Linked DNA regions of Homo sapiens. The protein of the gene in region 1 purifies or fractionates together with the protein of each later gene. This does not show direct contact. Each region holds a gene or a part of one and is shown in the gene's direction. Other genes may lie near its edges.

The links. Proteins that work in one complex are often made in the same cells at the same time.
Region 2: the proteins of SPINDOC (region 1) and ZNG1C purify together in Homo sapiens (affinity purification with mass spectrometry; one large-scale study listed by BioGRID and IntAct). This does not show direct contact.

What each region holds. Positions count from the first base shown.
Region 1 is NC_000011.10:63,815,578-63,820,505, forward strand, and holds part of SPINDOC (spindlin interactor and repressor of chromatin-binding protein), read left to right. Parts: intron 1-2,227; coding exon 2,228-2,557; intron 2,558-2,638; coding exon 2,639-2,788; intron 2,789-2,949; coding exon 2,950-3,075; intron 3,076-3,224; coding exon 3,225-3,425; intron 3,426-4,928. UniProt on the Homo sapiens protein: Chromatin protein that stabilizes SPIN1 and enhances its association with histone H3 trimethylated at both 'Lys-4' and 'Lys-9' (H3K4me3K9me3).
Region 2 is NC_000009.12:68,296,742-68,301,446, forward strand, and holds the end of ZNG1C (zinc-regulated GTPase metalloprotein activator 1C), read left to right. Parts: intron 1-838; coding exon 839-907; intron 908-1,010; coding exon 1,011-1,076; intron 1,077-2,222; coding exon 2,223-2,352; intron 2,353-2,739; coding exon 2,740-2,846; 3' UTR 2,847-3,294; downstream 3,295-4,705.

The sequences.
Region 1 (4,928 bases):
GGCAGACAGTGGGAAGAGAAGGAAGTAGAGAAGTGTCTAAGGACTGAGTCCTGGGAAACTCCAGTGATGGCAGGTTGGAGACCGAGTCAGTCCCTCATCACACATTACTAAATGCCACTGCATGCGAGGAGATACAGATACAGATGCTGGAGATACAGATGCAAAACATCAGAAATCTGTATGGTCATGGATTTTTTTTTTTTTTTTGAGACGGAGTTTTGCTCTTTTTGCCCAAGCTGTAGTGCAATGGCACAATCTCGGCTCACTGCAACCTTCGCCTCCCGGGTTCAAGTGATTCTTCTGCCTCAACCTCCCGAGTAACTGGGATTATAGGCATGTGCCACCACGCCCAGCTAATTTTGTATTTTTAATAGAGATAGGGTTTCCCCATGTTGGTGGGGTTGGTCTTGAACTCTCAACCTCAGGTGATCCGCCCACCTCGGCCTCCCAAAGTGCTAGGATTCAGGCGTGAGCCACCGCACCTGGCCGTGGTCATGGATGCTATGGTGTGGTAAGGAGACAGGCAGTGAACATCCCAAAAACAAGTGCCAGGTGGTGATGTGTGCTGTGTTGGAGGTGATGCATAAGGGGAATGGGGTGCTCTAGTGAGGGGAGATGGTCTTCAGCAACAAGCCAGAGGAAGGGAGGGAATATTGAGAAGAGATGAGGAAGAACTAGCACACATAACTGAGAAAGAGGGCCAGGGAAGCAAAAGAAGAACCAACAGAAGGTCATGCCCTAGACGCAAGTGATGAAAATCAAGATGGAAGAGGTGATCGGCAGAGGATGAAGTTGAGAAACTGACCGCAGAGTTTAGCACTGCTGACTTGGATGAGAGCTGTTTTGGAAGACTAGTAGGGAAGAAAGCTGATTGCAACTGAGAGGTCATTTCTGCCCATGGTCGCATGAGAGATAGGTACAAGACATATCTCGTATCTCTTTCAGACACCACCTCTTGTATCCATGCAAGCCGAGGCTCCTATTTCTCATACCACCTCTTCCATGCAGCCCCCAGGTATTAGGGCCTCCTGTGTTTTAATTTTGTCCCATCCTCTCTGGAAGGTAGGAGGGAGATGCAGCCGTGAAGGATCATGGGCACTTCGTAAAAGCACTGAGCTTCCAGGCTGATGCAGGTCTAAGGCTGCCTTCTTTGCTGAACTGGAAAGGGTGATGCCCTGTGAAAGCTTATGGTCTGTCTGTGTACACAAAGAGCAGGTATCAGGCAGCAATAGGAGTGGGACCATGGCTGTAAATGCTCTGTGAGCACTGAGAAGGGAGGCGAGTTCTGAGGGGATGGGGTGGCCTTTAGAACGGGCATGGTGGCTCATGCCTATAATCCCAGCACTTTGGGAGGCTGAAGCAGGAGGATTGCTTGAGCCCGGGAGTTCACAACCAGCCTGGGCAACATAGCAAGACCCCATCTCTTAAAAATTATTTTTTTGTTTGTTAATTAGCTGGGTGTGATAGCATGCATCTATCTGTAGCCCTAGCTACTCAGGTGGCTAAGGCTGGAGGGTCCCTTGAGTCCAGGAGTTGAAGGCAGCAGTAAGCTATGATAACACCACTGTACTCCAGCCTGGGTGACAAAATGAGACCCCCATCTTTTAAAAAAAAAATTATTAGCCAGGCATGGTGGCGCTCACCTGTAGTCCCAGGTGCTTGGGAGGCTGAAGCAGGAGGATCGCTTGAACCCAGGAGGTCAAGGCTGCAATGAGCTGAGATTACGCCATTGCATTCCAGCCTGGGTGACAAAGTGAGACTCTGTCTCAAAATAAATAAATAAAATTTAAAAATTAAAAGAATTTACCTTCCTCATCCTCAAGAAAGTGTAGAAGTCAGATTTGGATGAAATCTATTGTCAGGGATTGGGGTTCTGGAAAGCTTCGCAGGGATGATGTTGCCCAGCCCAATTAGGGTGGTCTGGACAGATGTGCAAAGGCTGGAGACCTGCAAGAATGCAGCCTGTTGGGAAAGTATGTGTAGTTAGTCCTAAGGTCCAAGACTAGATCAAGAGGAAGTATAGACGCGAGAGTCGTGGGATCCCGGGCACATCGGCTGTGTTGAGTGTGGCGTGTGCCTCATGGGCTCCAGGGGAAGGAAGAAGAACACTTTGGCCAGAAATGCTCTCCTCCCCCATCCCACTCAAACCACTGAGTCTGGAGACGTGCTAAGTGTTGTTGGTTGTGGGCACCTTTAGTGATAACACCCTCCCCCTCTCCCCTCGCAGTGACCCAACAGGAGAAGACCCCACCGCCTAGACCCAGCCCGCTAGAGGCAGGCAGTGATGGCTGTGAGGAGCCGAAGCAGCAGGTGTCTTGGGAGCAGGAGTTCCTGGTGGGCAGCAGCCCAGGAGGCAGCGGGCGGGCACTGTGCATGGTGTGTGGCGCTGAGATCCGGGCACCCTCGGCCGACACAGCTCGCTCGCACATCTTGGAGCAGCACCCTCACACCTTGGACCTGAGCCCTTCTGAGAAGAGCAATATCCTGGAGGCCTGGAGTGAAGGGGTGGCCCTCTTGCAAGACGTGAGAGCTGAGCAGCCGTCCCCACCCAACTCAGGTAGTTGGTCCTGGGGCTGGCGAAGGGAGAAGTCGGACTTGTTGGGGCACTAGAAGCTCATTGTGCTCTTGCTCCCTGCAGACTCGGGCCAGGATGCCCACCCAGACCCAGACGCCAACCCAGACGCTGCCAGAATGCCAGCCGAAATCGTCGTTCTCCTTGACTCTGAGGATAACCCATCCCTCCCTAAAAGGAGCCGGCCCAGGGGACTCCGCCCCCTCGAGCTTCCTGGTTAGTCAACAGAGAAGCCAGTGAGCCCCGGTGGAGGTGGGGGTTTGGGGACAGGGTGAAATACAGGCCCTGTGTTCTGGGCAGGTATCTTCAGGAGCCCTGGGGTGGCAGGGTTCGGGGATGGCCTCTTTAAAAGGGTATGAGGTCTTTTCTTTTTGCAGCTGTCCCTGCCACAGAGCCAGGAAATAAGAAGCCCCGTGGTCAGAGATGGAAGGAACCCCCAGGGGAAGAGCCAGTCAGAAAGAAAAGAGGCAGACCTATGACCAAAAACCTGGACCCTGACCCAGGTGAAGGGGAGGCCCGGGGGAGGCGTGGGCTCTGGCCGCAGTGCTCTGAGGAAATCCGCATCAGTGAGGATGGAGCAGGGCCTGGGCGCAGGGCGCCTGCAGCTCCTGAGGCTTTTTCACTCACAGTTCCATCCCGTCCTCCCTTCCAGAGCCCCCATCGCCAGACTCGCCCACGGAGACTTTCGCAGCACCAGCCGAGGTCCGACACTTCACTGACGGCAGCTTCCCCGCCGGCTTCGTCTTGCAGCTCTTCTCCCACACCCAGCTCAGGGGCCCAGACAGCAAGGACTCACCCAAAGACAGGGAAGTGGCAGAAGGAGGCCTTCCCCGGGCGGAGAGCCCCTCTCCAGGTGAGCCCTCCTGAGAGGGAAGCACAGTAGGGACCTCGCAGGCAGCGCTCCTGGGCCAGGCCTCAGAGAGGCTGCTCTATGGCAGAGCCCACAGTAGGGGTGGGTGGGGTGGGTGGGGTGGGTGGTGCTCAGGTTTCCTGGTACACGGGGCCGGGGCAGGGGATCTGAATGATGAGGAAGGCTGGCCTGAAAGCTGAGCTTTTCTTTTTCTGTTTGTTTGTTTTTTGAGACGGAATCTTGCTCTGTTGCCCAGGCTGGCATGTAGTAGCACAAGCCCGGCTCACTACAACCTCTGCCTCCCAGGTTCAAGCAATTCTCCTGCCTCACCCTCCCTAGTAGCTGGGATTACAGGCGTGCGCCACCATACCCGGCTAATTTTTGTATTTTTAGTAGAGACAGGGTTTTCCCATGTTGGCCAGGTTGGTCTCAAACTCTTGACCTCAGGTGATCCAACTGCCTTGGCCTCGCAAAGTACACCACGCCTGGCCTATTTTTTTATTTTTTATTTTTTGAGACAAGAGTCTTGCTCTGTCGCCCAGGCTGGAGTGCAGTGGCGCGATCTCGGTTCAGTGCATCCTCTGCTTCCCAGGTTCAAGCGATTCTCCTGCCTCACCCTCCTGAGTAGCTGGGATTACAGGCGTGTGCCACCATGCCCAGCTAATTTTTGTATTTTTAGTAGAGACAGGGTTTCGCCATGTTGGCCAGGCTGGTCTCGAACTCCTGACCTCAGGTGATCCACCTGCCTCAGCCTCCCAAACTGCTAGGATTACAGGCGTGAGCCACCGCACCTGACCAGGTGGGCTTTTCTTAGTGTTTCCTTGTTTCCTGGAATTGGTCACTGGGTCCGGGTAGGCCAGTGTTTCCCAGAAGCCTGATACTGATTTCCACACATGCAGTTTGTTCTAGCTAGAGCCTGAGGGGTGCCCACCTTACCCTGGTGGAGCTGAGGCCCAGATGGGGCCACTCAGCAATTCAGTTAGGTGTCCAGAGAATAGATAAGATGAGCAGTGGACAGACACCTCCAGGGGACACCAGCTCAGTAAATTGCCTCATAACAGCAGTAAGTGCTTGTGTTGTTTGGGCTCCTACTGAGTTTAAGAAGCTTACATACAAGGCAAGTCGTGGTGGCTCACGCCTGTAATCCCAGCACTTTGGCAGGCTGAGGCGGGCAGATCACCTGAGGTCGGGAGTTTGAGACCAACCTGGCCGATATGGCGAAACCTCATCTCTACTAAAAATATAAAAATTAGCCAGGTGTGGTGGCAGGCGCCTGTAATCCCAGCTACTTGGGAGGCTGAGGCAGGAGAATTGCTTGAACCTGGGAGGTGGAAGTTGCAGTGAGCCGAGATTGCGCCACTGCACTCCAGCCTGGGCAACAGAGTGAAACTCTGTCTCCAAAAAAAAAAAAAAAAAAGAAGCTTACATACAGTTTATTTGGCCCTTACAAAAATAACTTGTATAGAAGGGCAGATGTCCATTCCTTTTTCCAAAAGGGAAAACCAT
Region 2 (4,705 bases), on another chromosome or scaffold:
TTAGCCCTTGTGTATTTTCATCTCTGAGTTTGAAATTTGGGGTTATATTGGCAAAGGGAGGTTTGGGTTTTAATTAGGTGACCTGTTAGAGGAAATGTTAAGCTTCTGTTTCTTTAGGGTAGACAGTGAGAGATTTATCAAGATAAAGAAGAAAAATAAATCCTAAAGTTAATATTCAATACATGATGATGTCACCCTTACTAAAGCCAAAGAGGGCATTATCCTATCATTCTCATCGCTAAGAACTCTTCTCCTCTTGGCACATGCTTATTCAGTTAAAGATAAGCCAAGCCTTTCTTTTGTATTTTTTTTTTAAGAGAACAAATTTACTTTGGTTTTGAGTTTTATTCCTGGCTCTGGGTAGCTTATTTTTTTGACCCTTATTTTCCCCAATTTATAAAATGAAATAGTTATCTTCACTCCCCAGGATTGTTGTGAAGAGTAAGTCAAAAGATACAATGAGGTGACTCAGGCAAAAGTACCTGGCCCTGTGTAGTGAGTACATTGTATGTGTTACATATATTCTTATTCCTGAGAATCCACGAAAGAATGAATTAAATAATGAGGACCCTTTCATCAGGGTTTCTGAGTGAGTTTTTTAAAATACAAGGTAGTAGTTTGTGTAAATACTAAATCCATTGGTACCTGTGCAGAATGTAGGAAATGGAGTTGCTAATTCCAAAAAAACAGCACATATGCTGAGGAAAGTATAATACGTAATATATATGGTTTAAGCAATGTAAAATTCCATGAATATGTTCCTTTCATCTTAAAATTTGTGATTTAAAAAACATTGATATTACTATAAAGAATTATTATTATTTCCCTTGATTTACAGAGTATTGTTACAATCACATTTGAAGTACCAGGAAATGCAAAGGAAGAACATCTTAATATGTTTATTCAGGTGAATGCAATTTTTAACTGATTAATGATTTATCAATGGTTTTGTTACATAGTTGTTGCTATTAGCGATGGTTGGTCTTATTAAAATATGTCACTTGATACAGAATCTTCTGTGGGAAAAGAATGTGAGAAACAAGGACAATCACTGCATGGAGGTCATAAGGCTGAAGGTACAGTTTACTGTTGCAGACTTTTGGACAAAGTCCTTTTCTTGGCTGTTATAAAAACTATATTTGGTTTTAAACAGAAACACTGGTTTTAGTACAAATCATCTTTGTCTACTTTCATTTTTCTTTATTATTTTCATGACTGAAAAGGAGCTTTGGAAATCACTGCATAAGGCTTGATTTATTTGCACAACTTTCTTTAGGGTTGCAGCTAGAACAAACCTGTGTGCTTTGAAATGTTACCTTCTGCTCTCTGTTCCCAAGTACAGAGAAATAATGTTGCAAATCTCACTTCTGCTGAACATTATGCTTCCTGATGCATTTAGCAGACACTAAACATTTGTTGTACTCTAAACAAAGTTACAAAGGACTAGAAGAATTCTTGTTCTGTATTTAGAAACCCACTCACATTACTTGATATTTGGGTATTTAAGTCATGAAAGGTATTTCTTCTAGGAAGCAGTGATTCTAAAGTGTATGCTTAACCAGTCAGTTGAGTGTCTACTCTTGTGTGTTCACAAGTGTGCACAAAGTTTTTGGTAAATTAAGAATATTATTTCAAATAAATTAATTTCATCCCCATAGGAGCCAGTTTATCAGATAATTCGTTTCTCATTTCTGCAAATCAATACACAATGAGCTCATATTCAGATAAATTGAGCTCATATCCAGATAAATATAATAGTTTTTCTTTATTTCAACATTGTTCATTGATTGCAACCCATTTCTAAAACAAATTATTTAATATAACAAAACTCCTTTAACTTCTCAACTTTTCCCACTAAAACTGTGAAACATTATATAAAATCTTTAATCAATAGGATATGATACATATTTCATCATTTTGTTTCAGGTTTTGGTTGTGATAAATAACACTGAAAAACCATCCTAATATATGTATTAACTTTATCATTAGAAAAGGGGATTGTTCAAAAAAAAATCAATACACAGAAACCTTTTTTGAAAATTAAAAACATTAAGAAACTTCTTGTAATTCACAAATAATTGGAATTAAGTAATTTTCTCAGCTTAAGAGTTTGTATTTTTTAAGTGAATATCAGTAATTAATCCATTAACATTGATGCTCTATTTCTGCTTTTAAGTTTGAACTGAGGCTGATTAATGTTCAGTCAATTCTCCTTTGAGCAGGGATTGGTGTCAATCAAAGACAAATCACAACAAGTGATTGTCCAGGGTGTCCATGAGCTCTATGATCTGGAGGAGACTCCAGTGAGCTGGAAGGATGACACTGAGAGAACAAATCGATTGGTCCTCATTGGTAAGTCTCAAAGGATTCACAGTTTTGAAACAAAGTGAAAAATATATTTGAAAGGGATATCATGTGCCACTTAAACAGATTAACCATTCAGGTCCTCTTTTAAAACTAAATAAGCTTGTGGTCAATGTTTCATCTTTGTCACATTACAACGTTCGTAAAAGCTTGTTAGGACTTTTGTTCTTCTTCAATTTTAGAAAAGTGGTTAATCCAAGGACCAATGTGACTTTGATGTACTGACCTGGAAAGTTAAAGATGGAATCACTCAATTACTATTCTTTTTGTAAATTTTTAAACACCATAAAGCATTTAATGAACTGGAATTGATAGGTGAACTGTGTCATTTTAATAAGCATAATGTAATCACGTCATATTTTGTTTTGTTTGCAGGCAGAAATTTAGATAAGGATATCCTTAAACAGCTGTTTATAGCTACTGTGACAGAAACAGAAAAGCAGTGGACAACACATTTCAAAGAAGATCAAGTTTGTACATAACACTAGAGGCATTTCTTATCAAAAGGATTGGATAATAAAAATAAGTTTCTACTGGGTATATTTCAAGCATTTATTTATTACTTTAGTTACGAATTCCAATATACTTTAAAATGGTATTTGTTTTACAGCATACATAAAATGTAGCAAATCAGTACTGTAAAACATTTAACATTCATACAATTATATATAATATCCTTTTTTTTAAAGAATGGTATTTCACAAAAATATCTTTTGAAATTGGCTTTGGAGTTTACATATACTGAACATGAAAGTTTATAATAATGATGATACAACTTTCAACATTGTCATTTTTTCTTAGAACTTCAGCTGATTGCAGAGATATAATGATTACATTGTTATTAAATTTTTTTAACACAAGTAAGTGTCACCATTTTATGACATGAAATAAAAGGTTATGACTGTTATTGATGTTGATGTTGACGACCTGATCACCTGGCTGAAGGAGTGTTTGTCAGGTTTCTCCATTGTAAAGTTACTCTTTTCCCCCATTTCATACTGTGCTCTTTGGAAGGAAATCACTATGCACAGCCCACACTAAAGGAATGGGGAGTTGTAGTGTACTTTCTTGGGAGTGGTCTACATAATTAATTGAAATTCTTCTGCGAGGGACAGTTGTCCCTTTCGCTTTATTAGTTCGATCATTTATGTTTATCAGTGTGGACACATGAATATTTTATACTTTGGGTTACAATTTAATACTACTTTATTTTGTTGCTCAAATTATCCCAGCTTTGACCATTGGGAACTCTTTCCGTTATCTCCTGTTCCCCCCTTTGACATACCCCCATCAATGTGGGTTTTGTGTTTTGTTTTTGAGCGCCTCCTTATTTTTCTCCTGTATTTTTAAATAACCCCAATCCCTATTGAAGCTGGCTCTAGGAAAACTAACAATACTCCCTTTCCCAGGTCATCCGATTCCTATGCTGATGGAGGAAATTTGCCTCACATGCTGGGGGGCGCTGGGGAGGAGGTGTCTGGGATTATGTGGTTGAATAAGACACCTGGCCTGGCCCTCCTGGAGCTTAGTTTAGTAGGTCACACAAGCAGTCATTGGTAAATTTGGGATTCAAACAAATCTGTTAGGCTCAAACCTGTCTGTTATTTGTCCTCCAAGCTTCATATAAACTGAGGAGCCTTAAAGGGTAAAAACTTCAGGAGCAGCAAAGTTTCAAAAAAAGATCAGCAAGAAAGCTCTTTTCCAGATTTTATCCTGAAGGCACTAGCTACTTTAAGCTATTTTTTATTATATTTTGCCCTTGCAGTTGGCGTTTGATTTCTCACTGAACATTCATTGTCATAATTATAGACACTATGTGACTATCAAGGGCATAATATTCTTTCATGCTGCATTTTTATTAGATGGCACCTCAAAGTTTTCCCAAGTAGGTGGGTTTTAAATTATGAATATATACCGTGGCATAGTATCTTACTTAGTATTTTAATAAGATTCTTATTTATATAACAAATTTTTTTTATTCCTCTGTAGTGCTACTTTAGTCTCTGAGCTAATTTTCATGAAGCCAATCTAAAAATCGTGTTATTTCTAAGGATGTGGAGCGAGTGAGATGAACAGTTGTGCTGTCATATTGCCCCTCCCCAGTGCAGATAGTGAATGAGGACCCACTGATTTAAAGGCAACACTGCAGCCCCTTCTTGCCTCATTGAAGTCCCAAGTTTTATTACAGTAAAAGCACTTAATGTTGACATTTCTGAAAGAATGAAGAGGCTGGGCATGGCGGCTCACGCCGGTAATCCCAGCACTTTGGGAGGCTGAGGCAAGCGGATCATGAGGTCAGGACATCGAGACCATCCTGGCTAACACGGTGAAACCCCGTCTC